Linked DNA regions of Homo sapiens: regions 2, 3, 4, 5, 6 and 7 are each linked to region 1. A link means that fine-mapping ties the variant in region 1 to the plasma level of a protein whose gene starts in the linked region. Region 1 holds a variant in brackets. A gene starts in each other region. All regions are shown on their reverse strands. Distances are between the middles of the regions.

Region 1 (4,065 bases):
TTGTGCGTTTAAGATACAGCTATAAAATAAAAAGCCCACATTTTAAGAAAAGATAGAATTTTTTATGCGGATAAGCTTTGTTTCTTAAAATAAAAAAGATTTGATACTTACTCAATGTTGCATCAAGCGTTCAGAAGAGTTTTCTGAGAGGTGGGGAAGTCTCCTTGCGAATTACCTTCAGATCCTATTACAGAGAAGAATTCCCATCCCCGATATGTGTGTAGTAGTAAAGCACTGTTGCCAAAAATGCCCATTCACTCTTTTTTTGTATCTCTGGGTAAGTTTACCAACCTTTTTGTGCTTTAATTTCCTCAACTATAAAATGATGGTAACAGTTGTACTTTCCTCATAGAATTGTTCCAAATGAATTCGGTATTTGAAGTGCTTAGAACAGTGCCTAGCACATTATAAATGCTATGTGCCTTTGCTGTTACTATTTCTACTACGACCACATTGGTGATGACAATGATGATGAATCCTATTACTAACAGTTTCCCATTCATTTCATATTAATTAAAAAAATATTTGCTCCAAATGCTTTTATCTGTGCCTACAAACAAACAAAAATCCAAAGGTGCAGATTTGCCACTAACGAAATAGTAAAGAGATGTATTGCAGGATCTAAGGCTGATTCTGAAAGTGTTGGTCCCCAAAGTGTTTGGAGTGGTGAAGTGATATTGGAGTAACTGTAAAACCTCTTAGATGGTTGCTCTGAAGTAAGCCCCTCTCTGTTGGATATATATTGCATGTTTTTTTTTTAATGTATCCATATATATTATGACTTGTTTCTCCAATGTAAATACACTTCTTGAAGACAGAAGCTGTGTTTTCCATTTCTGTGTATTTCCTATAGCATTCAACAGAGTGTTTTACAAATTTCAGAAGTTCAATAAATGTAATGATTAGCTGCTTAGGTAGAGGTGAGAGGAGGAGAATTAGGAATAAAATGTTCTCCAGTTAATTGCAAAGTGCTTTTGTACTTAAAAATGAATTTGCATTTTATCTTTTTCTACAACTTCTGGAAAGTGTTTTAGTTGGCATTTGTCATTTGATTTTGTACAATTTTGTAAATTTTCTGGAAATCTAAATTCCTACAAAGAGTCCATCACAGGATTTTCTATTTTTTAATTGTTTCTACATGAAAGGAAGTGTTAGTGTAAAGGCTAGCCTGTTCCATTTACACTTCATGCAATTTGTTAAGAAAATAATTAAGCTTTGGAGCTGGTAGAGACCATATTGTTACAGCCTAAACCCTCCACAGGGTACCTGGAACAGAATGGAAACTCAATAAGTTGTTGATAAATAAATGAATCATTTAGTACAATGTCTTCATTTCACAGTTGAAGGAACTCTGTGATAACTTGCTCCCTGTCACATGGTGGCATAGGAGGGGTTAGAACAAATGTTGCTGATGTCATTCATCATGCTCTAGTTGTGGATTTCACATTTAAATTGTAACATAAAAAAGACTTTAAGTTTAGTCTTTGAATAACTTCCTTCATTTTAAATCTTGTGTATAAATAAATTTCTTAGGTTAATATCTGCTACATTTTAGAAAGGCAGTAGGAAGAAGTTTATACAAGTCAAAAGAATTGTTTTAAAGGGAAAGTAAAGGAAAATATCTGTTAGTGGCTTATTCGAGGTGTGTCAGTTGATGAATTTCCTTTCTCTCAACCATAAGTTTTCTTTGCTCTGTTATATATTATTAGGGTTTCCTAGTTACTCTAAAAGACTTTCTGTTGGAACAATTTGTTTTTCTCAAGCACAACCCATCTCCAACTTGTCTGTATTTCTGAGACTTTCAAGAAATGTTGGTTATCATTTTAATTGATTTTCTGCTAGGATGGAAAAAAAGAGCCAAGTTCATGTACCTGTTTGAAGGGGCCCAAACTGTCAGAAATAGGGACGATTGCCTGGATGATAACGCTCTGCGATGCCCTCCACAATTTCATCGATGGCCTGGCGATTGGGGCTTCCTGCACCTTGTCTCTCCTTCAGGGACTCAGTACTTCCATAGCAATCCTATGTGAGGAGTTTCCCCACGAGTTAGGTAAGGAGCTCTGTTCATATTGTAAAAGTCTGCTTACTTCTTGATTTCAGTGGAATGAGACTTTTCAGGTGACATGCTCTTAAAATCCTTCTGATGCACTAAAATGAAGACCTTGTTGGACATTGATGATTATCTTTGATATCATCCAGAAATAAAAAAAAAACTATTCACTTGATATTTTCTTCTTCTTCTTCTAGGAGACTTTGTGATCCTACTCAATGCAGGGATGAGCACTCGACAAGCCTTGCTATTCAACTTCCTTTCTGCATGTTCCTGCTATGTTGGGCTAGCTTTTGGCATTTTGGTGGGCAACAATTTC[G/A]CTCCAAATATTATATTTGCACTTGCTGGAGGCATGTTCCTCTATATTTCTCTGGCAGATATGGTAAGAAGCTTAAAATTTGTATTTTCTTTTAATTTAAAATTTGGAAATGAGTATCTGGATTATAAGTTAACTAAGGGTGGCCTTCTGCTTTCCGCAGTGTGGAAGGCCTTTCTGTTGTAATTCAGAACAATCCCATTTCAACAGATCATTCTACTTGAGTAGTTTACACTAATAGTAATTTGAAACTGATCCTCACTGGTTCTTTAAAACATAATCGTATTGTTTGAAGGTGAAATGATTTGTTTTTGCTGAAATAGAGATATTTTCCTCTATCTCTATTCCCCTTGTGGTTGGTACATCTTGTCTTATGTTATAGTATGTCCCTATAGGACTTTTTCTCCTTTTTCTCCCTCTTTTGTGTCTATGCCACATTTGGAAGAGGAATAACTTATTAGAGTAAATAGCATTTTGTTATTTCAAAGTTCTAAACAGTGACAGCTTTTTGGGTTAAACTAAAACTGGTACACTAAAATTGGTAAAATTTTGACAATAGTTATTTGACATAGTATATATTTATATCTGTTCAATGTCTGTGTCTTTGTATCTGTGTGTATGTGTGTGTTTGTGCTCAAAAGAGCGTGCATGGCCGGGTGCGGTGGCTCATGCCTGTAATCCCAGCACTTTGGGAGGCCGAGGCGGGCGGATCACAAGGTCAAGAGATCTAGACCATCCTGGCCAACATGGTGAAACCCTGTCTCTACTGAAACTACAAAAATTAGCCGGGCGTGGTGGCGGGCGCCTGTAATCCCAGCTACTCGGGAGTCTGAGGCAGGAGAATTGCTTGAACCCGGGAGGCAGAGGTTGCTGTGAGCCGAGATTGTGCCACTGTACTCCAGCCTGACGACAGAACGAGACTCCATCTAAAAAAAAAAGAGTGTGCATGTGTGTGTGTAAGAGAGAGAATATCCTGTGCATTTTAAAATAAATCATGGAAATCTTTCTATAAAATGATAATATGGTAGTGTATGAAAATCAAGGACTATTTCTTTTGCATTTGGAACTGGATGTATTACATACATAATTTAATAATTTGAGTTTTTTATTTGCATTCTTACCTCCAAATTATATTTGTCTAGCTCTGTTCGTTGTTCTCTGCAGACCCTCAGAAGAGCAAGGATTTCATCTCTTAGAACCAATGCTACATTTATAACTTTTGTCACAAAATTAATGTCTCATGCTATCTTATAGTCATTTTACTTTCTGATATAAGAATGGAATCTTACTAGAGTTGTTCAGTTTAAAGAAATAATACTAAGAAATAATACTCATCCTGGAGTGAGCAAAATAGGCACAGTTCAAGGGGCTTTTCCATTCATGGGGCTTTTCCTCTAGAAAGAGGGGATCCTTAAATTAAACAACAAAAAATCACACAGATGACTAAATAATTACAAATAATAAAAAATGCTATGAAATAAGAGAGAAAGTAGAATATATGATGAGAGATGATAATAAAGGAATCTAGAATAAACTAGGATTAGCTAGCAAAAGTGTTTTAGCAAGATATAAGGTAAAACGTGAAGGATTTAGTCCACTGAAAAATTAGAGAAATACAAGTTCTGGTACAGGTGATGGTAGATGTGAAGATTTTGCTGGGTAAACTTGAGGTCATGAAAGAATGGGTTGGGTGAAGCAT
Region 2 (4,065 bases), not on the chromosome of region 1:
AACATCCTAGTCCCAGCCACGATTATCTCTGTTCTTGACAGAGACATGCATTCCTCTCTTGCCCCATTCACCTTCCAATCTTGCCGCATACATTTTCACTTCCTCAGCAGCCAGTGTGGTTCTTCTAAAATGTAAATTAAATAGTATTATTTCTCTACTTTCAACTTTCCAGTGATACACAAGGTATAGAATAAAATTCAAGGTCAAGACTACATATGATCTGACCTCTGCCCTCAAATCTGATTACCCTCTCTCTCTCCCTTCTTGTATTCCACTTGCCCTTGAAAACACCTGCCATTGGGCTGTCTCAGGCCTTCATAGTTAGCTGTGTTGTCAAAGTCATCTAGGGCTCTCTCAGATGCCAGTTGGTCAGGGAAACCCTCCCTGACTATTCTAAAGAAAATCACACACTCCCTTGCCCCTCTTTCCTTTTACCCAGACTTATGATTCATAGCCCTGGGCACTGCCTGATTTTAGAAGTCTATCTCCCTGCACTGCCCTCCAGCCTAGAATATATGCTGCATGGATCAAAAACTTGGTTGTGTTCACTGATGTAGCCTCTGCTTCAAAAATAATATTTGACAGAAAGTAAATGCCCAAGAAGTACTTGTTGAATGAATGAATAATGAATGAATAATAGTTAATACTGGATTTTTAAAATGACAATAACAGAGACACAAACAATTTGTGGCTCGATCTTTCTTCTTCAAGTTAAATCAACTAATTTTATATAAATTTTCTCTCAAAATGCATATCTTCCAATTCTTCAATAATTCTGGATTGTTACCGCAAAATTCTTGCCATGTTTTTCCAGCTTCTTGGATATGATGGAGTTCAAAATTGAACATAACATAGGCTTCTGAGAAAAGCCTAGGTAGTCTATAATTAGTTTCTCTCTTTCTTTGGTTTTTTTTTTTTAATTATTTTATTTTAGTTTTTATTTTTGTGGGTATATAGTCGGTGTATATATTTATGGGATACATGAGATGTTTTGGTACAGGCATGCAATGTGTAATAAACACCTCATGGAAAGTGGGGTATCCATCCCCTCAAGCATTTCTCCTTTGTGTTACAAACAACCCATTTATAGTCTTTTAGTTATTTTTAAATGTAGAATTAAATTATTATTGACCATAGTCCGTTTCCCTCTGTTTACAGGTTTCACATGCTTACCCAGGAATGCTCCTTGAAAAGATAATCTCCTCAGACATAAGCCTGGCCACAGAAAAGTCTCTCTAAGGTCAGCAGTTTCTAGAGTGACGAAGTGAGAATTCGATTCTTATCTGTTCACAGACTCTACAAATCTCAAAACACCTTCCTGAAGAACACCCTGGGGGAAAAATACAAAAAACCTCATGGATTTAGCCATAGATCATATATATTTTGAATTGTCACTCTTTCACTCAACAAATAAATATCTCCTATGTGCCAAATCATGAGCTAGAGGTTGGAACAGCACATTGCATAGAGAACTTGGTCCCTAGCCTGAGGGATTCAGAATCTTGGGCACCATCATTTCTGTTTTCATCATTGTTGTCATCAGTGTCTTTTGAGACATTCTTATTTTGATCTCCTTTGATTTTTATATATTATGATTATTTCCAATATAATTTTAAAATAAGAATTTTATACTTATGGAAAAATATATTTCATCTAATTTGAAAAAATAAGGAAACAGTGCTTTGCTTTCCCTAGCCTTCCTTCTCATTTACTGTAAGATAATAATTTTTCTTTTTCAGGGTTCGTTTCAATTTTTTGCAAAGGATTTAGCAATGAAACACTAAAATCTCAGGCATTTTCATTAAGCTCATTTTTTACTTTCCTCATATATAGCCTATATGCTTTATTTAATCTTTATTCTTTACATTAAATTAAAATTATTTTTAAAATGACTATATTTCTATTGCTGTTGTGACTTTTCATTGATCAATATTTCACTAAAGATATTAACTTTCTCTAGGATGCAGAGAGACTCATAGAACTTACACCAAAATTTCTACTGAATGAATTTCCCCACCTTCTTGGTGATTGTACACCTGCCTTCCTTATAAGGAGAACAAGGAAGTAAATCATGTTGAAGTTGCTTTTAAACACAGCTTTTCTGCTTTACCTGTCCAGGTAGCCTCTGTTTTCATTTCAGTCTTAATGAAAACTTTCTAACTTATATCTCAAGTTTCTTTTCAAAGCAGTGTAAGTAGTATTTAAAATGTTATACTTCAAGAAAGAAAGACTTTAACGATATTCAGCGTTGGTCTTGTAACGCTGAAGGTAATTCATTTTTTAATCGGTCTGCACAGCAAGAACTGAAACGAATGGGGATTGAACTGCTTTGCCTGTTCTTTCTATTTCTAGGAAGGAATGATCACGTACAAGGTAAGACCTGCGTTCTCTGATATATTACTTTCGTGGTATGCTTGACAAACCTGTCATTTGGTTCAGAAACTAGATCTGAAGTCATGTTTTATTTGATCTGTTCCATTGCTCTTTTGTGACTGAGTGAACACTTTAACAAATTACAGACAAACACCGGGCAGTTCCCACAGTGAATGCTCTAGGCTTAAGGTAAATAAATACAAAGGTTGCACAGGCATTTTAATGAGGAGAATTAAATAACATTACTGCCCAATGGAACTTAGTGCCAGTATGATAACCATTTTTGAAACTTTTCTATTTTATTCTACCACAAGATCTTCCACTTAGGAGTAATAATCTTGAAAGAGAAAGAGGATTTATTTCAAAAACAGAAATAACTTGTTTAAGAAAGAAGCATTTTTTAATGGTTGCAAGTAATTTTTAAAAATTAAAGTGGCACACATTGGCTAAGAATAATAAATAGGATAATCCTATATTTGTGAACTTTCACATTTTAAGAAAAAAGAGCATGATAATTTTGGCTTATAAGACATACATAATTTTTAATATACATACACATATTTTACATGTGATAGATGTAAAATACAAACTTTTATGTGAATTGCTAACATTTCGAGGACTGATTTTGGATACTAAACTAAACTTTGATGTTGTTTTGTTCAAGTAATGTAAGAGCCATCAGTCTCATAAATGGAATGACTGAAAGTGTACTTAATCCCTGCATCTTGCTGGGTCTAAACCTAGGTGGCTGTGCCCTGGGAGGTGCAGAAACCTGTGAAGACTGCCTGCTTATTGGACCTCAGTGTGCCTGGTGTGCTCAGGAGGTAAAATAAATGACCTCAATGTGTTTTTAAAACCTGTCTGCAGTTAAATTCATGTTAATTTCCTCAGTGATATTTCTGATAGTGACTTGCTTTTTTGTGGAGTTGTATAAGTAAAACAAATCAGGAAAGGAGAAGGTGAGCATTGGTAGATCAAAATGGCATTCATGTGATTACTTTCAAAAACAATTTGTAGAAGGAGTGGATGTCAAATAATTCGGAAAAAAATTTTAACTTGGGATTTTTTTATTTTACCTGGTTCCTTCTTTTATTGTAAAGCCATTTCTACAGGTTACATGTAAAATATGGAGGCTGTCTGGATAATCAGAGTTCATGGAGATGATATTTTCTAAAGTTAAACATACATTTGATGTTCATATTATAGTTGTATTCCCTCTGGGTACCAGGATCCATTCTGAACTACTGCTAGATTCTAAGGGATGTGTTTTAAGTTTGGGGCAAATATTACTGGTCAGATATTATCCAGTTCCTTTAAAAATGGCATTTTCATAAACTCAGTGACTCTGTACCACACCAGTGACAAAGTGCCAAATAGGAACTCCTTATCTGGTCAAACCGAAAACTACATGAAAGCAGTATGAAGATGATTGGGGACTATGTACCAAGCCATCCTAAGACACTAGAGAATGATGTCTAACTGATTCATGGTAAGGAAGAGAGGCATTAGCTTTCTGAATTTTAAAACAAGTCTCTATGCACTGGATCTCATAAAGATAATCTAAACATAAATCAAATCATACGAATACCAAGTGCAGCAAGAGCTGAGTAGCATGCTCAAAGAGCAACAAACCTCGACACCAAACTCAGAACTGGGTTCTACCTGTGGAAACCCAAACTCCGAGTTCAGTGT
Region 3 (4,065 bases), not on the chromosome of region 1:
ATGCCCCCAAGTCACCGCCCTCCCTCCCTCCTTCCCACCAGCTCCCTTGAGGATGGGGAAGGAGCAGAGGTTGGCCACAGAGACAAGAGGTCTCCGAGACGGTCCCCTGCCATGGCCAGCCCGGTGGCAGAGGGCAGGCAGGGCTTCTTGCGTTCCAGGACTTGGCTCAAGCCTGAGGCAGGCATTCTTAGCTCCATCGCTCCTTCAGGAAAACTGAGGCTTAAACAAACGGTCACTGGCCTAGGCCCCGGGACAGGGCTGAGCACTAGCCCAAGCCTCAAGCCTGCTCCTCCCATTCCTGGCAAGGAGAACGGCAGGAGCTGTGGAAGGAGGGGCTGGAGAGCGTGGTGAGTGGGCGCTGGGCATGCAGAGAGCAGGCGGGCAGGAGGCAGAGCTGGGAGCAGGCCCGCTGCAGCTTCCTGGAGGGGCAAGAGGGAGCTGGGGTCTGAGGAAGACAGGAGGGGGCCAGGCCCCAGCCCGACGTACCGGTGCAGACCAGCCCCGCATCCTCGCTGTGGTCACAGTTGCTCCGGCCCCAGGGGCTTCGGGGGCAGTCTCGGAGGGCCTGTTCTCCTCCTCCACACCCCACATCGTCCATCCACACGGGCCCTGCACCAGGCCCGAATCTGGCACCGCCGGGGGCAGCCAGCGCCCCCCCACAGCCCAGTTCCCGGCAGGCTACAGCAGCGTCGCGCAGGTCCCAGCCATCGTCACATACGGTGCCCCAGCGCCCGCCGTGCCAGACCTCCAGGCGTCCGGCGCACCTGTGGGGGCCAGAGACCAGGCGCAGCCGCTCTGTGGGGTGAGCAGGGAGGGGACGGTGTGGCCAGTGAGAAATGATTCAAACACCCCTTCCTCGATTTCCACCTGGGGAAACAGGCCTGAGGGAGCGGTGGCCTGAGATCTGTCCGCCGGCAGCCCGTGAAGAGGTGAGTCCACGACCTGAGCGGGCCAGGACACCTGGGCCTCCTGACAGGGCAGGAAGAAGAGGGGAGACCAGGCCTGGCCGTCTAAATCCCCGGGGGAGGGACGCGGGGAACACTGGGATCCCTCCAGGGCCCCGGCTAAGGAGAGGGCGCCCGCAGGTCCTCAGTTTTTCTGGGCCCTGGGCCTCACAGCAACCAGCCTTGGGGTCGGGGGAGCCTGCAGGGAGCTTACCTTGGCGGGGGGCTCCTGTCGTCAGCAGAGGGGCCCGGGTGGACTTGGCCTGCTTGGGCCGGGGGCTCTTCTTCCGGGAGGCGTTCTGGGGGTTCCCAGCTGGGCGGGGGGCTGGGAGTGGAGACAGCCAGGGGTCAGGAGCTGAGCCCCTCATCCTTCCTCCCACCTGGGGGCCCAGGCCTCCGTCTCTGAGGGTCTGAAGTGATGGAGGACTCCCTAGGCTATGAAGGAGACGGGGCGGGGCAGGGGGCGGGCTGTGTGTCCCCTGGGAGTTCATACTGCAGAGGTCCCTCTCCCCTCGGTGGGGGCAGGAGGGCACGCTGGGTGGGGGTTGGCAGGGCAGTCCCTCTCCCCTCGGGGGGGGCAGGAGGGCACGCTGGGTGGGGGTTGGCAGGGCAGTCCCCTGGGCTCACCATGTGTCACCAGGGGCTCCTCCGTGCTGGGGCTCAGCTCCAGCAACAGCCCTGGCCAGGGAGCCCCATCCAGGGGAGATGTTGAGTCGTCCCTGGAGTTAGCCACACGCTGACCTGCGGCGGGGGGGCAGGGACAGAAGCTATGAGGAGAGGAGGGGAATCCAGGCCATTTGGGTCCCTGGAAGAGGGAGTTAGCCACCTGGCTTTGGAGGGGATGGGAGGTTGGGTGTCTCTGAACTGCTGAACACTCAGACTTGCTGGGGCTAAGGACTTGGGGTTCCTGGGTCATCTCCAAAGGAGCTCCCCCTGAAGGAGCAGCCAGGGTGTCCTCACCTGCGCAGACGACGCCCGCGTCCTCCTCGTGGGAGCAGATGTGGGCCTTCCAGCCCCGGTGGTGGCAGAGGCCCAGCTGCCCCTCGTTGCCCCGGCAAGCCAGCTCGCTGAGCCACACAGGCCCTGCCCCCTCCCCGAAGAAGGCGCCTCCCGGGGCGGCCAGTGCCCCTCCGCAGCCCAGCTGCCGGCAGGCCACGGCGGCATCGCGCAGGTCCCAGCCGTCATCACACACGGTGCCCCAGCGCCCGCCATGCCAGACCTCCAGGCGGCCAGCGCACCCATGGGGGCCATCGGCCAGGCGCAGGCGCTCTGAGGGTTGGAGGAATGGCTGTGACTGGGGAGGGGCATCCTGGGGGCCCCAAGGCCAGGGCAACTGTAGGGGCAGGTGGCTGTCCTGCAGGTACTGTCTGTAGGCCAGTGGCCCTGCTCACTGGCCCCTGGGCCCAGACTCCTGGGTGCTCAGAGAGATGCGGCCAGACACCTGGGGGATTCCCTTGCGGAGCTGGGGCCAAGGTCACAGTGGAATTCGGATGGGCCGGGGACCCAGTGGGGGTGAGGCCAGGCCTGGATGGGCAGAAGGGGGAGGCCTGGGGGGGGGGGCGGGCAGATGGGAGGAGTCTGGGCACTTACCAACAGCCTGGATCCCCACCAGGGCCGCTGGAAGGGAGGGCGGAGGGTGGGGCAGTGTGAGGGGCAGGCCGGGGGTGGCCCTTTCTCCAGCGCAGGCCCCTCATCTTGAATACCCCAACACACACACACACACACACACACACACACACACACACACACATGGGCTTGGCTAAAGGTCAGATGTCTGGGAGATCCCCCGCAGGGTCAGGGCTGGGGGGCGGGCAGGGGGCAGGTCCCTTGGGCTTCTGGGCTGGCAGAAGGCTGGGCAGATTGAGCAGGGATCCTCAGAAGGGATGTCAGGGTATGCAGGAGCACCAGCGACCAGTCCCGGAAGTTTGAGTCCCTAAACTGGACAAGCTAAGGGGTCAGAGGTGGGGGCCTAGGCCCCCCGAGTCCCCAAGGAGAATGGATCACTCACCAAGGAGGCAGGCCAAGACCCTCATGGTTGCAGCCAGGGCAGGGGATGGGGTGAAAGGGGAAGGAGAGCGGGGAGAGAAGAGGAGGAGGCAGCTGGGGAGAGAGGGAGGGAGGGAAGTGCCTGCTGGAGGCGCCCAGGCCCGAGGAGGAGCAGGCAGGGCTGGACGCTTTGCCAGGAGGAAGAAAGAGGCTGCAGGGAGGCGGCAGGGGACGGTGGGGGGGAGGGGGGGCGGGAGGGGGCTGGCCGTCTGCTGAGGCATGGGGGGGAGGGGGGTGGCGGGCGGGAGGGAGGGTGTCCAACTGCAGACACCCACACGGGAGATGGAGACGACGGCCAGGCAGGCTCCAGCCAGCAAAGTGCTGTGCCCAGAGATGCTTAGGGGGTGGCCGGCTGCAGGAAGGCACAGGACAGGGGTTGGGGGACGTGTGCGGGGGGGGCGCAGCATGAGCGGGAGGGGCGCCCACCTGCTGTCTCCCCTCTTGTCTGGTCAGGGAAATCCAGTGAGACCACTGCTAGGGTTGGGGGCTGGGCAGACCTGGGGTTCTTGGTGCAGCAGCAAGAAGATTTGCAGCCAGACACCAGGAGGGACTTCCTGGGTTAGGAAAAGAGACTGAAAGACCCGGCCCTCCAGTCCTCCCACTCACTGGTGGATCTGAGTGTGAAGCCCCCAGTCCCCAGCTGAGAGAGGAGAGGTTGAACTTCACTGTCCCAGAGGGAGCTGGGGTCGGGGGATAAGCAGCACAAGGGTCAAGGCTTGGGAAGGGGAGGGGCTCCACACACTCTTCCACACACTCACACACACACACACACACCCCACTGCCTGCACACCAGGCAGCTGTGAGGCGGAAAAAATTCGGTAATGGGGAGCGTGACTCAGAAGGGCTGGCAGGGCCTCGGGCTGCCCCTGAGCTCACAGCCTCCCCTTCTCCCAGTCCAGCACCGTCCCCCAACAATTAATGTTAACTGGGGAAAGGAGAAGCCAGACAGAAATGGGCGGGGGTGTCCGGAGACAGACTGGGAAAGCCATCAGAGAAGAGACAGGCACACAGCGGTTTCAGGCTTTATTAACAAACGGTGTAAAAAACCAGACGGATCTGGAGGAAGGGACAGGGC
Region 4 (4,065 bases), not on the chromosome of region 1:
CACCCTGAGCAAACTTCCTTTCCCAAACCCTCTTCCTGCCCATAACATGATTTGGCTTGGGCTGGAGGAGGGGGAGGGCAGAGGAGACACCCCTTGACCACCTCACATCTTTGTTGGTTCATGGGTCTCAGCCCTTTCCTATCATCCCAAAGAGCCTGAAATTGTTACATTTTGCTTTATAAATTCCTTTCTTAAGTATTGTCAGTTTCAAAAAAAAAAACCCAAAAAACGATTGTCTGCCTGTAATAGCAGGTGTGAGAGAAAATGAGGTGCCTGGAGCATATTTCTCTCTGGCAATGGGGTAGAGGGCCTGACATCATGGGGCCTTTAATGGTAGCCCCCCAGCTTCATGTTCCCTCACCTTTCTGGAGAGGAGGGCTTGGGAAAGGCACATGGAGATAGGGTGGAGCTGGGGGAAAACAGGCCTTGTACAAAAGCTGAGTAGCCAGATGTTCACTTTTACAGCTCTTCTGTAAAACTGGCAGGGCAGATATAGATTAAAACGAAGGACAAACTCCATTTAAAGTGCATTACAGCTCAGGAACCAGCACCCCCTGGGCAGGAGAAGGGAGGGAAGGGCACAGAGGCCACATCAGTCTCCTTCCTTATCTAGGGCCACATGTCTCTCTCCTAGCTTTGCCAAGGGTGATTTACACCCCCAGCTGGAATGACTCTCTTTCTGGGCTGATTACATCGGCAAATGCCCCCCAGAGGCCACAGCAGGATGGCCATATTCAGAAGCAGCAGCCAATAAATCTCAGAGGTTTATATTGCGATTCTCAGTACTCCCTGCTGGCCCTCTGCCAGGCTGGCTGTGGAAGTAAGGAGGGGGTCAAGTTAGAGGGTTAGGGGATGAAACCCTCCACTTCCTTTCATCACCCTCTTCTCCTTCTCTCTTTCTATGCGCTGCTTAGTTCTCATTCTTCCAAGCCATTCTGCTTCTGGCTTTATCCTGGGATCTTGTGGGAATCAGGCCCAGGCCCAATAAATACCCTTATCCTTATGGGTAGACGTCCTGTGTTCTGGGCACAGATGTGTTTCTACCTAGTTGTTTAATCCTGATAGAGTAGCTTGCTCTCCGAAAGTCTCATCATGTGAAAAGGATGGGCTCCTAAATGGTCTCTCCAGGCACCTTCCTCAGTGAGCTTTGGTCCAAGGAAATCTCTGCTATTTAGTGGAGAGTTTAATCTTCCATCTTCCCTCACGACACCATCGGGGCTGAATTTTGGAATCTAATGCCCCAGGTCTGCTCCCCCAGCAAAGCCATTCCACCTGTCTGCGACCCATCTTTGCAGCATCTTGAGCTTAATAACCACCCAATCTTACCCTAGAAGACACTTAGGAGAGGAAAAAACGAGATCATAGATGTGCAAATTCTAAGAAAAATACTAGAAATGCAAGTGCCCTTGTGTTGGCTTGTTCAAGTTTTGTTACAAAATCTCTTTTGTGGTGGTGTCTGTTCTTTGATGTGTGGGTGAGTGGGATCCAGAAAGTGAGAAAGGGTGCTTTTCTTGGAGAAATATTTGGTTCTCCTAGATGGCGAGTTTCCAGCGGCAGCTTCCACAATGTCTTGCTAGTCGAACTTGTCAGACAGCAGGTGGGCCGCCTCGGAAAGAGCAACCTCTTCCGCACCAAGCCCGGCGGCTCCCGGGGCGCCGGCCCTCCCCCGCCCCCACCCCCGCGGTCCCTCGGACCAGCGCTGGAGGCGCGTGGTGTGGACGCGCGCTTCGGAGTTGGAGGGCGGCGCCCAGGACCCTGGTGGGAGAGTGTGTGCGTCGCGCTGGAGGGCGGGAGGCGGGGGCGGGAGGTGCCGGTCGAGGGAGCCCCGCTCTCAGAGCTCCAGGGGAGGAGCGAGGGGAGCGCGGAGCCCGGCGCCTACAGCTCGCCATGGTGCGCCCCCTGAACCCGCGACCGCTGCCGCCCGTAGTCCTGATGTTGCTGCTGCTGCTGCCGCCGTCGCCGCTGCCTCTCGCAGCCGGTGAGTGTCAGAGCGCGCACCGGCCGGGGGTACAGTGGGAGGGGGAGGTGAGGTGTAGGCGAGGCCCGGGGCACCTGTCCGGAGAGGGCGCAGCAGCCTCCCGGTGCATCCGAGCCGAACAAGGGGAACTGGAGCAGGAAGCCCAGGGTGCCTGCAAGGGGCTGGGGTCACACCTAACACAGTGTACGAACTGAGATAGACTGAGTGCCAGCAATGGCCTGGCCACCCAAGCATCTCCTCCTCGCCCCTTTTTCCCCCCTCTTCCCTCTTTTGAGGTAGGTCTACACAGTCACAGAACAACCCACAGCCAGGTCACTACCAAGACAGCGTCTCTAAGAGGCGGGGAGAATCAGATCAGAAACAGAGTGTCATTTGCTCCACGTGGGCTTTAACTCTTCCATCTGCTTTAAGGACTGAGGAAGAAACTAGGTACAGGTGAAGAAAAAGAAGTTCGTTAAAACTGACTTGTTTCATAACCTTCTACAATAGCAGGCCTTGCAAGCCGTCTAGCACAGTGGCTTGCCCCTTGGATAATAAATAATCCACAATAGATGTTTTGTAGATGTAGTTCAAGGCCTGGTTTTAGAACCAGGCCACTCCCCCAAGGAAGAACAGCCTGGGATCCGAGATCCCTGGAAGGCCCATGGCCTTCGTGAGTGGTATGGGTGTGTGGAATCTTATTATGCGGCTCCTGCCCAGAGACTGAATGGAGGGACTCCTGAGACAGAGAGACCACCACACTGCCCTGAGACCTCAGTCCACAACGCAGTGCTGTAGAAATGCTGCCTTGAGACAGATATGGAAGGAAGGAGGAAAAACCCTGGTCTGTCCACCTGCCAACATCAGTAAGTCAGGGCAGCAAGACATCACCAGTCTGATTTGACTGCCCAGGAAATTTCACTAATCCTAAAGGTTATGGCTGCATGTCAGGATCAGGGGAAAACATTAAACACCTTTCTCATTAAATGGTTTAATGAAGCAGTGTTGGTGACAGATCTATTTTCCACAGTAATACTTGACAGCAATGACATCTGGTTAAGTAGCCTCATTGAAAATCCATAAAACAGTCATCTAGGAGGTACCATGTAGAGCCAAGTGCTCTTCAAGAGCACAGACCAACAGAGGGCTTTGGGGGTGGAAAATATCATTGCTCAGGGCCTGCTAAAGCCAAGCATATAGGAGACCTCCGATTCATGGGGAAGTGGTGTCATGTACTGAAAATCATTCTGAAGTGGATAGGAGGCTGGAGTCCTGGGTTCTAGCCTTGACTCGGTCTTGACTTGCTACATCCCCTGGTGCACATTACTTTTCTTTGTTCATCCAACTATAAAATGGATACCTGGGTTGTGGGCCTCACTGATGAGAAACAAATGAGGATCTTGTGCCCTGAGGCATAGCCTGATCTGACCCATTCTGTAGCTACTCATTCTCTGATGAGCCAAGAAGCAGAAAACAAAGTTACAAAACCAGGTTGCTAACAAATCAATATGAAATAGACGTGGCAGTGGCTGTATAAATGAGGAGGTGGGGCAAGTAATAGAAAGTGGTATGGACTATAACAAGCTGGAAAAGGCATGACTTGTCAAAAGGGGGCAGTCATTACTCCACCCGTTACATGTGGGCCCGAGTGTTTCCATTTTTCAAGACAAATTGGAAATTAATAGTTTTATTTGAAATCTGATTTTTTTTTTGAGACAGGGTATCAATCTGTCACCCAGGCTGGAGTTCAGTGGTGTGATTCCAGTTCACTGCAGCCTCAACCTCCCATACTCAAGTAATCCTTCTGCCTCAGCCTCCCCAGTAGCTGGGACTGTAGTAGTGTGCCACCACACCTGGTTAATTTTTGTATTTTTTGTAGAGACGGGTTTTTGCCATCTCGGATGCCCAGGCTGATCTTGAATCCTGGGCTCAAACAGTCTGCCCACCTTGGCCTCCCAAAGTGCTGCAATTAAAGGTGTGCGCCACCGCACCCGGCCTAAAATCTGATTTTTAAATGTTGGCCACTAATTACAACTTTAAGAAAATACTGGCTGGGTGCAGTGGCTCACACCTGTAATCCCAGCACTTTGGGAGGCTGAGACGGGTAG
Region 5 (4,065 bases), not on the chromosome of region 1:
GACACACCCATAGATAACCACAAATGCAAAAACACAGAAAATACACAAAAACACACACCAGTACACATGCACAGATTATTAAGACACAATATATGAAAATAGATACTAGCTCCCATACTCATAAACTCACACAGATACATACAACACTCATACACACAGACTCACAAACATGTTTATGCATTCATACACAGCCTCCCCCACCCACTACTCATGCAGGAAAATAAATGCATGCTTTAATTAACATACACGGGTTCACACATAAATCTCATCCTGCTGGTCTGGTTGAAGACCAATGACTAATGGGAAACCATGCACAAAGCCAAACATCACGTAGGGGAGGCCGGGATTGGGTTAGCAGTGGGGCTTGAATTAAGCCCCATCAGATGACAAACCCGCCCTGCCTGGCTTCCTCTGGAAGCTGCTGAGCCGAAGCAGCAGCGCCTGACCTAGCTCTGGATCCTGGGCGGATGATGCGAGGCTGCGTGCCCGAATTCCAGCTTGATTCAGGGTTTAGTGTCATCCAGGGTCAAGCTCGGCTATTAGCCCCACCCCAACCCCTGCAACCAGCCGGAGGCTCTGGGGGCACTGAAGGGCTGTGGCCTGGGGCTGCTTTCTAATCCTGGGCTTGCCCTGGCGCAAATGCTGAGAATAGTTAGCATTAATGAGGGTTACAACAGTGGGCCAGGCTCTGGGCTAAGCCCTTTACGTCCATGACTTAATTCTCACAACAGCTCTGTGAGGGGGGTGGGGGGTGAGGGGTGTCCTATCATCTCCATTTTAGTGGTGAAAAAACCGCGCTCAGGCCACAAAACCATTCAGCAAAAGACATCAAGTTGAGGTTCAACCCTGTCTGATCCTATTCTTCCCGGGGTTTAGGTAAGTGTGCTTGCGAGCCTGTCTCCTCCACGCAGGAAGCTTGCACCTTCTGCCCTCAGGGGTCTCCACCGCCCGGTCCCGCCCCCTTGTCCAGTCTGGCACAACACCTGGCCCACAGCAGGTTTCTGGTGAGGGCGTGGGTCTCGGTTCAGGGAGGCCCTCAGCAAGGGCCTCAGCTTCCCCATCTCTGAAATGGGAATGGCGGCAGAGACCTCGCAAGGCTGCGACCAGGCTCTCTGGAGCAGCAGAGGGCATGCCAAGCTCTACATCGTCGCTGCCGCTGCCCTCTCCCATCGCGGGGTTCCCGCGCGGTCCCCGCCCGAGCTGGGGTGCGGCGCTGGCGCCCCATTGTTCAGGAGGGCGGGGATGCTCCCGAGTGCTGATTCCACCCCCCGCTCGTGCTCGCAGCCCGGTGGAGCAGATGACTAGGCCCGGCGTCTGCCGCGCGGGGCGCATCCTTTGTCTGCTCCGCGGCGCCCGGTGCCCGAGGCCCGCGCCCCACTCTTTGGGCAGACAAAGCCGGGGCCGCCGCGAGCCCGGCGGGCTAGAGCTGGGCTCGCACCACCCTTCTCCCGCCTCACGGACCGCCCCCTCTCCTGGACGTCCTCTGATTGGCCTACGGGGCTACAAAGAGGCCGGGAAGCGGGCGGATCACGTGGGCGACTGTGGCTTCCCATTGGTTAGGCGCGGCTGCCAATCGAGGAGGGCGGGCGGTCCGCGCTCGGTCCGGTCGCTCCCTCCGCGCTGGGGCCCGCCCGCGGGGCCGGCCGCCTGTCAGAGGGAGGTGGCGATGGTGCGCCCGGTGGCGGTGGCGGCGGCGGTTGCGGAGGCTTCCTTGGTCGGATTGCAACGAGGAGAAGATGACTGACCAACCGACTGGCTGAATGAATGAATGGCGGAGCCGAGCGCGCCATGAGGAGCCTGCCGAGCCTGGGCGGCCTCGCCCTGTTGTGCTGCGCCGCCGCCGCCGCCGCCGCCGCCGTCGCCTCAGCCGCCTCGGCGGGGAATGTCACCGGTGGCGGCGGGGCCGCGGGGCAGGTGGACGCGTCGCCGGGCCCCGGGTTGCGGGGCGAGCCCAGCCACCCCTTCCCTAGGGCGACGGCTCCCACGGCCCAGGCCCCGAGGACCGGGCCCCCGCGCGCCACCGTCCACCGACCCCTGGCTGCGACTTCTCCAGCCCAGTCCCCGGAGACCACCCCTCTTTGGGCGACTGCTGGACCCTCTTCCACCACCTTTCAGGCGCCGCTCGGCCCCTCGCCGACCACCCCTCCGGCGGCGGAACGCACTTCGACCACCTCTCAGGCGCCGACCAGACCCGCGCCGACCACCCTTTCGACGACCACTGGCCCGGCGCCGACCACCCCTGTAGCGACCACCGTACCGGCGCCCACGACTCCCCGGACCCCGACCCCCGATCTCCCCAGCAGCAGCAACAGCAGCGTCCTCCCCACCCCACCTGCCACCGAGGCCCCCTCTTCGCCTCCTCCAGGTGAGTCCGGCGCTCCCTCTCGGGCAGGACCCGTCCTCACCTCAGCCCCGGCAATCTAGGGTTGGGCTCTTGCCTATAATTTATCGTTTGTTACCCCAAAGACACCCCAGGTTCCGGCTCCCGAGGGGGGATCCCAGGTCCAGCTAGTCTCCCTCCCGCCCCCGATCAATCTGGAAAGTCTTTTGTCCCCCGTGGGCTGTGCTCCCTCGGGAGGGGGTGGCTGCTGGGTGGAAGGCATCTCATCTTCTTCCCAACAGGGCTTTCTGGCCTTTTTCAGAGACCAGAATGGGCGCAAACTTTTGGGTTGGGTTCGCGCACCCAGCCTCTCTGCCTGGGTTATTTGGGGAAGTTTGAAAGCCCGCATAGTACCTCCTTCAACCACTGGGTCAAAAGCTGAGGGTAAGGAATTCCTCCCAAAGCTCCAGTTTCCCTGTTCATTTCTTCTTGTTTATGTAAATATCAGATGTGTGTGTATGACAGGTGGAAGAGAGGTAGTGAGAGGATTTTGTTTACAAACAGTAGTATGGACCACTTGAGGGCAAAAAATAAAAACAAAAAAGGCATTGTAATCCATGTTGTCCCTGCAAATAAGTGGATTCAGTAGGTCATTTGGGACAGGTGTGTATCTAGGCTGAGCACATTTACAAATTAGGTTAAATCTCTTCCTCGCACCATTTTTTTCTTCCACAATTATAAGGTCAACATGTTTGGCCAAATACACCATTTAAGCAAGGATGCCTATTTTTGTCTCCTTAAGCCAGGATGTTCAACTTTGCTGATGCTGATATATGCCAATTTCTGTTTGAGCCCACGTAGAAAAGGCTTTTCTTGCTGAAGTCTTCAAGCAAAGTTAAAGACAACTCGTATTCTTTCCCCGTTTAAATCTTAAGTGGGCCTAGGACTAAAACAAAACAAAACAAAAGCCTACTTTGTCAGAACGTTTGGACAAAAGTTTCTGAATTGTCTTGCTTTGAGTTGGGGTGGAGGTTTGTCCAAATCCTTTGTCTAGCTGGGTCTCTGACCTAAATCTTAGGCTTAGTGATTTACTGTGGAGTCAGGTATGGACTTTGGACTATAATTGAGTGTGTAGAGAATTTTCCCACATGGTTATGAACCTTAATACAGTCTTGATCCTTGGGTTGGAGCTTGGCAATGACATAAGTAGGATTATTCACCCATAAAAAGCCAAGTGTGCATCTCTTCCAGCTTCAAGGAATGCATTAGCTAGCTGGGTTTTACCTGTAACCCCTTTTGGCTTTCATATAGAGAGATTGACATATTACTGAGAGACAGGAAGCATAGTGGTTGAGAGTATGGACTCTGGAGTTTATTCTTAGGTTTGAATCCTAGCTCTTCCCCTTGTTAGCTGTGTAAGCTTAGGCGGCTCACTGAAGCTCTTTGGACTCAGTTTCTTTGATTGTGAAATGAAGATAATATTATAGTAGTACTTAACTCATAAGGTTGCTGTGAAGACTTTTTTTGTTTTTGTTTTTGTTTTTTGAGACAGGGTCTGGCTCTGTTGCCCAGGCTGAAGTGCAGTGGCACAATCTTGGCTCACTGCAACCTCTGCCTCCCAGGCTCAAGCGATCCTCCCACCTCAGCTTCCTGAGCAGCTGAGACTACAGGCGTGGGTCACCACACCCAGCTAATTTTTTGTATTTTTTGTAGAGATGAGGGCTCACTATATTGCCCAGGCTAGT
Region 6 (4,065 bases), not on the chromosome of region 1:
AAAAAAGGATGAGTTCATGTCCTTTGCAGGGACATGGATGAAGTTGGAAACCATCATTCTCAGCAAACTAACACAAGAACAGAAAACCAAACACCGCATGTTCTCACTCATAAGTGGGAGCTGAACAATGAAAACACATGGACACAGGGAGGGGAACATCACACACCAGGGCCTGTCAGGGGGTGGGGGGCTAGGGGAGGGATAGCATTAGGAGAAATACCTAATGTAGATGACAGGTTGATGGGTGCAGCAAACCACCCTGGCACGTGTATACCTATGTAACAAACCTGTATGTTCTGCACATGTACTCCAGAACTTGAAGTATAATAATAAAATAAAGAAAATATACTGAAAATATATTTTAAACATAATTAACATTTTGATTTTATTTTTACTTTTCATTTTGAAACTCAACCACTCAGAATTAAATTAATTTTAATTCCTGCTTCATGTCCATTCACTTATTTATCCAGATATAGCCATTTTGATTTATTTGTTCATTACTAATTATTTATTTTTAATAATGGAATAAAGATTCCATTATTTGGGTAGTGACACAAAGCCACTGCACAAAACAAAAGCTAGGACTCTATCAACAGCCCATATCAAGCCTGCTAGTTCCCCTAACATTCCATCCTTCTCTTTCCTCTCACCCAAAAGGCGCATCACTAAGAATCTTATGTTTATTGTTTCTTTTGTCTCATTTTATTGTAACTATTTTTCTAAAGAATACACAAACATATATCTAGTACTGTTCTTTTAATTGTATAAAAATGTCAGACTCTGTATCGTTTTTGGAACTTCTGTCCATTAACATTGTATTGCTAAAATAAATTCATATTGTTACTTGCCACTATATTGTACTAATTTTTACTCCTATATAATATTAAATTAGTGAATATACTACAGTTTATTTTTATACTGTTTTTGGATATTTTGATTGATTCAACGTTTTGTTAATATGAATAGTGTCACTATAAACATTTTTTACATATCTTCTGTTGTACATGTGCAAAAATTTCTCTTAGTTTTATACCTTATCATGGAAGTGCTAGAGTTTGCAAATATTCAATTTTAGTGAAAAAAAGTGTCAAATTTTTCCAAAGTGGTTGCTCTAATCTGTAACATGTAAAAGAGCCAATAGATTCACATTTGGTATTATAAGATTTTTAGGCATTTGGAATCCAGTGGGGGTAAAATGGTTCTATATTATTATCTTAATAAATATTATTAAAAAATAGAAACTTTCCTCCATTTCTAATTTGGTCAGATAAACTGTCTATTTCAAACTAATTACAAAACTATTTACGTCCTACTTTGAGCTAATTTTTTCTAACTCTTGTGTCATTCCATGATATGGTCATGGTCATGGTCAGTACTCTCATATAGTCGTTATGGCCAATGTGTTCTCTGCTATAATCCCACTCCCCTAGACAGAATGTCAGGGAGTGAGATCATGTATTTACTTAAGCTTTCCAGCTATTCATTCTTTCTTACTGTAGACACCTCATCTCATCCCAAACGATTTTTAAAGCTATCTAAGAAATTTCCATTGACTACTTAAGTTTGAAAAAGATTTTATTAAAAATATTGCACTACATGGACACATTTACAAACACAGTCATAAGATTGCAATGGTCTATAGAGAGCTGGCCCAAGTGACTAAGTATTTTTTAAAAACCATTCAATTTGATTTCTGGATTTTCATGTTTCTTTCTTATAAGACACTAAGTTACCTAATTTAAACGCAAAGCCACGTTTAAGGTGATTCTCAGACATCTGAAGGAAGGACTAAGGAATGTTCTTTAAATTGGGAAATAGGGCAGGAGAGAAATCCTAGTGCAAAGCTCCATACTCAGCAAAAGCAAGGTAAGTATGATGATGACTCATAGGCTTACTGTTGTTTGTTAAGATACATGGAATTTCCAGGAGGAAAGAAGAATGAGAGTTATGGTAAAAATAAGATGGAAGCATACAGATGTGATCCTGAAACCTTCCCTCCCACCCCTCATCAACCTGAATGCAGTAAAACAAAGTGAGCTTATATGCATTATCCATGGAATGGCAACTTTCATTCTGATTAAAGATATTTAAAAGCATCAGACATCTCTAAGAGGGCTTAGCTGAAACTCTCTATGTATTTCTGATGGCAACGTATTTGGCCATTATGAACCAAGATAGAATGTACGTTTTCTAAACTGATACTGAATTGTCTAAGTTGCTAACAAGAAATCCTTTCATAACAGTACAGTTTTTAACCTTTACTTCTTTATTCATCTTTAATTCCTTGCCACTTCCCACTGAGTTGAAATGTTTATATTAAAACAAAACACCCACTGGAATTCTAAAGAAATTGGCTCACCCATCTTTCAAATTACAAGATATTTTTTGACAGTATACAATATTCATTATAATGGAATAAACATTTTAATTTCTTAAGGAACTCTAATTTTCCTTAAAGGAGATGTTTACAACTTACTATTATAAATGCTGCCACTCAATCATAGGAGAAAATGATACTAAAATAGTTCAAGGCTAAAATCACACATAGGGCAGTTGTTCTCGAATATTTATAAGGCCACGAACTCATTTATGTATAACCTATAAACTTGAAGAATTTTTGAACCAATACAGTGGCAAGGAAAGCTAACAACCTAACTGTTAAGATCTATGGTCATTATTTTTCATTTAGTCCTAGAAATACATTTCCTTTCTGTAATGAATCAATATGGTCTAACTCAAAGAGAAACACGTGGAAGTGAAAAATAAATTTCTAAAGCAAGTGCTGATGGAAGAAGCAGAATTTCCCATTTAAAATACCCAAACAACTCCAAATTCTTTAGTAGTTAGGACTCCTGAAATCTCTTGACATAATAGAGAAGCAAAGACCCATAGAGAGATATGCGGTTAAATAGTGCTGCCTCTGGTGGCAAAAGCAGTTGCTAAGTTGTTTCACAACATATTTTTCCCCCACAGGCACAGGCCCCCCAAACACTGGAGCCGTCTACGAATTATTCTGACGCTAACTCCACAGCTCCGGACAGAAACACAATAGACGGGCGTGGTCTTATAATCATAAGCCAGTTCCTTTCTCAAGTCCTTCCTGCCTATGTTCGCTTACGTGTTATGGGTTCTGCGGTCCTGATGAAACTCCCTGAACGGAGAAAAACCACACACTTCATCCCAGTGGCGAATTTCTCCTCTTGCTCTAAGCAGGGTGTTTGACCTTCTAGTCGACTGCGTCCCCTGTACCCGGCGCCAGCTGTGTTCCTGACCCCAGAATAACTCAGGGCTGCACCGGGCCTGGCAGCGCTCCGCACACATTTCCTGTCGCGGCCTAAGGGAAACTGTTGGCCGCTGGGCCCGCGGGGGGATTCTTGGCAGTTGGGGGGTCCGTCGGGAGCGAGGGCGGAGGGGAAGGGAGGGGGAACCGGGTTGGGGAAGCCAGCTGTAGAGGGCGGTGACCGCGCTCCAGACACAGCTCTGCGTCCTCGAGCGGGACAGATCCAAGTTGGGAGCAGCTCTGCGTGCGGGGCCTCAGAGAATGAGGCCGGCGTTCGCCCTGTGCCTCCTCTGGCAGGCGCTCTGGCCCGGGCCGGGCGGCGGCGAACACCCCACTGCCGACCGTGCTGGCTGCTCGGCCTCGGGGGCCTGCTACAGCCTGCACCACGCTACCATGAAGCGGCAGGCGGCCGAGGAGGCCTGCATCCTGCGAGGTGGGGCGCTCAGCACCGTGCGTGCGGGCGCCGAGCTGCGCGCTGTGCTCGCGCTCCTGCGGGCAGGCCCAGGGCCCGGAGGGGGCTCCAAAGACCTGCTGTTCTGGGTCGCACTGGAGCGCAGGCGTTCCCACTGCACCCTGGAGAACGAGCCTTTGCGGGGTTTCTCCTGGCTGTCCTCCGACCCCGGCGGTCTCGAAAGCGACACGCTGCAGTGGGTGGAGGAGCCCCAACGCTCCTGCACCGCGCGGAGATGCGCGGTACTCCAGGCCACCGGTGGGGTCGAGCCCGCAGGCTGGAAGGAGATGCGATGCCACCTGCGCGCCAACGGCTACCTGTGCAAGTACCA
Region 7 (4,065 bases), 77 Mb after region 1:
TTTTAAGGACCATTAGCTAAGAGATGCTATGGACACTGTGAGAGGAGGTCCCCTTGAAAGGCTCCAAGAAGGAGGATCCAGAAAGAGGGAGAAGCAGAGAAAGTGATGTTGAAGGACTCACCTAAATGACATGGCCCAATGTGGTACTACTACCCCAAAGCCCCAGGGAGTAGGCAGGAAAGTGGGGTAACTCTCCTGCCAGACCTGGACATGAAGTTCCCCATCATCAAAGACACCTTCCTCCTAAGACAGCCCTGCCACTCAGAAGGGCTCTGCTGCTTAGAAAGTTCTCCCTAAAAGCACAGAGCAAAACCAGATTGTTTTGGGTGTGTCAGTGAGCTTTCTTTTTCAAGAATCCTTGGGAAATAAACATTTTAAGGAGATGTTTTTCTCTGAAACCAAAAGAAGAGCCAGGCATGGTGGCTTATGCCTGTAATCCCACCCCTTTGGGAGGATGAGACAGGAGAATCATTTGAGTACAAGAGTATGAGACCAACCTGGTAGAGACCCCCATCTCTAGCAAAAAAAAAAAAAAAAAATAGCTGGGTGTGGTGGCATGTGCCTGTAGTCCCAGTTACTCAGGAGGTTGAGGTAGGAGGATCGCTTGAGCCCGGGAGGTAGAGGCTGTAGTGAGCCGTGATAGTGATCGTGCCACTACATTCCAGCCTGGGTGCTGGGTGACAGAATGAGACCATGTCTCAAAAAAAAAAAAAAAAAAAAAAAAAAGAGAAGAAGGAGGAGGAGGAGGAAAAGGGGGAAAGAAAATTCTCCCTCAAACCCAGGTAAACTCTGACTTCTTGTTTCTTAAGCCTTTGACACCTCTTCCCCTCGGGACCAACTTGATTCTTCTCCCACAGCCTCTTGCTCAGTTTGAGCTGTGAATGACCAAGTGCCTTTTTAAGGGCCTCCTTTGTACGTGGATCTGGAAGGGAGGACGGTGTTATCAGAGAAAGAGGACAGTGTTATCAGAGAAAGAGGACAGGGGCCCTTATCCTGAACCAAATAGAGGCACCAAGCCTTTATCTCCTTCCTGGGTCTGTATCTGGGAAGAACCTGCCCCTCTTGAGCCTTGGGTGTGTTTCATCCCTCAGCTGTCTCCTAGAAGGAGCTCTTGCTGGGAGCCTGAGCTGGCCAGGGCCTCTCTGCTTTCCTAAGGAGGTGGCTTTTTAGAGTACCTGCTGTCCCATAAGTGGCTCCCGACACCAAAGCCATGCAACATCTAGAAAGGCCCCCTTTCTCGTCACTCCAGATTCCTTTTCCTAACACTAAAATCCTCTTGGACTGGTCTTTGCAGATCCACAGGAGGAACGGTTTCTTCCTCCCCTCCTTGCCTTCCTCCCCGCTCACTCCACCTCCCCACTAACCCCTCAGAGCAGCCAGGGAAAGTACATTTCCTTCCCAAGAAGATGATCCAATTTGTTCCCAAGAAGAGGCCCGTTGCCCCAACCCAGCTTCAGACTCAATAAGCACACTCCGAGAAGAACAAAATGAACCTCAACTTAGCACCCACCTTTCCAGCTCCTCCAAGAGAGCTTTCTCTCCTGAAAAGAGAGCTGCACCCAGCCAGCCCAGGAACGCAGGCTGTCCCTGGAGCCTGGGCTGTTAGCGCGAGTGCAGGAGGCCAGCCCAGAGGAGTGGTCAGCGTGAGGGAGCCAGTCATTGGGCCAGTTCAGGGAGGAAAAGCAGGCCAGACCTCCCCGGGTTGTAGAATTGCTTCGCCTCCACCTCCTCCCGCTCTGTCCCCACCTCCTCTGCCCCTCCCATTTTTGGGTTTTCGGGCCAAGGATTCCATTCCGCGACTTCACCGGCTTGTAGCCAGTGACCTTCAGCACACAGCAGGGGAATAAAAATGAGAAAGAAAATCGCCTGTTTGGAGAGGTGTACAATGACCTCTTTATTGAGAGGCCCTTTGCTTTTCTGTAAGTCAATAACTTATTGACTTATTTTTGCTGCATGGAAATGGGCACCTTGCAAATGTGCGTGGCATTTGCTCCAGAGCTGTGCTGTCATACCTATGAGAGCAGAGCAGCGGGTGGGTCGTGATGACACACTCAGGCTGCAGAGTCCCAGCCTTGTCACTTCCTATCTGTGTACGCCTGAAGCAGCTGCACCACTCCCTGCACCTCCTTTTCATCATCTGTAAAATGGGGGTGTGAGGCTGTCCACCCCGCACGCCCACCGTGAAGATCCAATGAGATCATTACTCGCCCAGTGACAACACAGTGGCTGGCACTAGCCGCACTCATAAGTAATCATCATTGTCATTGTCGTTACCGTTATTATTAAAGAGATGAAGGAGTCTTTTTAAAAAATGTGTTGTCTGGGAGAACTAGGAGTGTTTCCCTCCCGACGTCTGTCCTTTTTTTGCTGCCATGAACTTTTCTCAATCATAGCAGCCCTTTCCAAAAATAGAAGCTCTTCTTTCCCAGAAAAGCCCATGTGGGAAAAACCAGGCAGCCTGCTTGCTGGCCTGCCCGTCCTCCTGCATTCCTGCAACAAATGTTTATTGGGTGCTCATCCATTCCAGTCACCATGCTGTATGCCGGGCACCCACAGCTGCATGAGTCACCTTGGGGGTTCATACTCTGGGGACGGAGACAACAACGTCAGTAAATGCATCCAGTACAGAGTGGGGAGCGCAGCGACGAAGAATGAACAGGGCCTCGTGAGGTCCCAAACACCCGTTTCGGTGGCAGGAAAGCTTATAAAAAATCTAAATCTCTGGATCCCACCCCAGGATGGGTGACTTAGTTACCAGCAGGAGCTTCCTAGAATCATCTTGGAAAAACTCAAACTAATGATCTTTATCCAGGGACAGGCATTCTGCGAGATAAGAGGGAGACTTCCCAGAACTGAGACTCCAGCCCTTCCACCCTACCGTCCTTCCTTCTGGCCCGCTGAGAACTCAGGCACCAGTAGCTCAGTCTTGCACCTCTGCATTCTGTTGGTAGGCGTAGTTATCCTCAACTAATGAGTTTTCAGAGTTCCCCATGCCACCCACCACCCCACCCCCACCCTGCAACAGTCTAGTTCCTTATTGTGAATCTTTCTTCCCATTTTTAAAACATTTATATTTTCATTCAGTTCTTGAAATCCTAATTATATACATTCATAGCTACTATTTTAAATGGCACTTGCTTCACTTGGCCTAATTTTATTTCGTTTAAGGTCCAAGAAAGCACGTCTCCGTTCTGGTATTCTAGGACTTGTGCTAAAGCCTAGATTTACTTTCATTTTGATGGCATTCTAGAGGAAATCTGCCTTTTTCTCGCCACCGCCCCCAACCTCCCCACCATGGCAACATTCATTCCCTCTTCCTTTGGTAACAACATCCCAATTTCCTTTCTGAGAAACCACTATACTTTCAGTCCAGCAGGTGGTGTTGACTTCATCTCCTGCTCCAGAGGTAGCTTGTGGCTTAGGTATGATAAATCGTACTATTGCACTGGTTCAGGGATGATCCACCTTCAGAGCCAATGAGATGCAATGCCACTTTTCACTGGGACTGTTGAAAGAGATGCATCCTCTCTTTCTTACTGGACTTGAAACTGGAGAAAAAAGGCTGGAGTTATTGCAGCCATCATGCTCCACTAAGGGAGAAGCTGTCTGAGGATAAGGCCAATGCAGAAGGCTGTGGAATAAAAGTAGAGTGAGAGCTCAGTGCAGTGGTATACGCATGTGTAGTCCCAGCTACTAGGAAGGCTAAGGCAGGAAGGTTGCTTGAGCCCAGGAATTCAAGGCTATAGTGTGCTATGATCACTTCTGTGAATATTCCACTGCACTCCAGCCTGGGCAATGTAGCAAGACCCTGTCTCTAAAAAAAAAAAATGGTAGAGTGAAATCTGAACCCACTGGCATGGGTTCAGATGCTCTATTTTCATTATATGAGTCGATACATTCTCATTTTGCTTAAGGTGTTTAGGTTGAGTTTTCTGAAGTTGCAGCTGAACACTTTATGAAGCACTTTCTCATATAGTATCGTATTTAATGCTTGCAATACTTTTTGTGGGGTGGATATTAATTTGGCAACTTTGTTTATAAGAAAATAAAGTCCAGTAAGAAAAG

Direction of the effects. Alleles are on the strand shown, and positions count from the first base shown. The strength of an association depends on the size of the effect and on how common the allele is.
For the plasma level of the protein whose gene starts at base 2,104 in region 2, allele G in region 1 goes with a higher level than allele A (weak association).
With allele G in place of A in region 1, the plasma level of the protein whose gene starts at base 3,131 in region 3 is lower (moderate association).
For the plasma level of the protein whose gene starts at base 1,691 in region 4, A is the high allele of the variant in region 1 and G is the other (weak association).
For the plasma level of the protein whose gene starts at base 1,653 in region 5, G is the low allele of the variant in region 1 and A is the other (moderate association).
In carriers of allele G in region 1, the plasma level of the protein whose gene starts at base 3,474 in region 6 tends to be lower than with A alone (moderate association).
For the plasma level of the protein whose gene starts at base 1,589 in region 7, allele G in region 1 goes with a lower level than allele A (moderate association).

The links. PIP is the chance, under the fine-mapping model, that this variant and not a neighbour inherited with it causes the effect. Protein levels are from antibody-based Olink assays in UK Biobank. Linkage for the fine-mapping came from a reference panel and not from the study's own genotypes, which makes the PIPs less certain.
Region 2: ITGB6 starts here. The variant in region 1 is fine-mapped to the plasma level of the ITGB6 protein (UK Biobank, PIP above 0.99).
Region 3: SSC5D starts here. The variant in region 1 is fine-mapped to the plasma level of the SSC5D protein (UK Biobank, PIP 0.98).
Region 4: GFRA3 starts here. The variant in region 1 is fine-mapped to the plasma level of the GFRA3 protein (UK Biobank, PIP above 0.99).
Region 5: MEGF9 starts here. The variant in region 1 is fine-mapped to the plasma level of the MEGF9 protein (UK Biobank, PIP above 0.99).
Region 6: CLEC14A starts here. The variant in region 1 is fine-mapped to the plasma level of the CLEC14A protein (UK Biobank, PIP above 0.99).
Region 7: SOD3 starts here. The variant in region 1 is fine-mapped to the plasma level of the SOD3 protein (UK Biobank, PIP above 0.99).

What each region holds. Positions count from the first base shown.
Region 1 is chr4:102,265,857-102,269,921 of GRCh38, reverse strand. It overlaps SLC39A8 (solute carrier family 39 member 8), which reads left to right. Exons shown (of 9, transcript NM_001135146.2): 7 at 1,843-2,050; 8 at 2,248-2,432. Among named protein-coding and RNA genes, the nearest start is that of SLC39A8, 78 kb to the left of the region's middle. RefSeq lists an enhancer at 1,293-2,492. The variant G/A (reference allele first, on the strand shown) is at 2,370.
Region 2 is chr2:160,198,311-160,202,375 of GRCh38, reverse strand. It overlaps ITGB6 (integrin subunit beta 6), which reads left to right and starts at 2,104. Exons shown (of 15, transcript NM_000888.5): 1 at 2,104-2,373; 2 at 3,118-3,197. The coding sequence starts at 2,313.
Region 3 is chr19:55,487,502-55,491,566 of GRCh38, reverse strand. It overlaps SSC5D (scavenger receptor cysteine rich family member with 5 domains), which reads right to left and starts at 3,131. Exons shown (of 14, transcript NM_001144950.2): 1 at 2,953-3,131; 2 at 2,535-2,561; 3 at 1,905-2,213; 4 at 1,572-1,685; 5 at 1,159-1,269; 6 at 487-795. The coding sequence starts at 2,977. NAT14 (N-acetyltransferase 14 (putative)) reads right to left here. Exons shown (of 3, transcript NM_020378.4): 3 at 4,001-4,065.
Region 4 is chr5:138,272,247-138,276,311 of GRCh38, reverse strand. It overlaps GFRA3 (GDNF family receptor alpha 3), which reads left to right and starts at 1,691. Exons shown (of 8, transcript NM_001496.4): 1 at 1,691-1,978. The coding sequence starts at 1,888. RefSeq lists silencers at 1,599-1,688, 1,779-1,968.
Region 5 is chr9:120,712,058-120,716,122 of GRCh38, reverse strand. MEGF9 (multiple EGF like domains 9) reads left to right here and starts at 1,653. Exons shown (of 6, transcript NM_001080497.3): 1 at 1,653-2,365. The coding sequence starts at 1,765. RefSeq lists a silencer at 1,116-1,965.
Region 6 is chr14:38,255,502-38,259,566 of GRCh38, reverse strand. CLEC14A (C-type lectin domain containing 14A) reads left to right here and starts at 3,474. Exons shown (of 1, transcript NM_175060.3): 1 at 3,474-4,065. The coding sequence starts at 3,545. LOC112268136 (a long non-coding RNA gene) reads right to left here and starts at 3,522. Exons shown (of 5, transcript NR_169588.1): 1 at 3,122-3,522. RefSeq lists an enhancer at 3,665-4,065.
Region 7 is chr4:24,793,097-24,797,161 of GRCh38, reverse strand. SOD3 (superoxide dismutase 3) reads right to left here and starts at 1,589. Exons shown (of 2, transcript NM_003102.4): 1 at 1,511-1,589.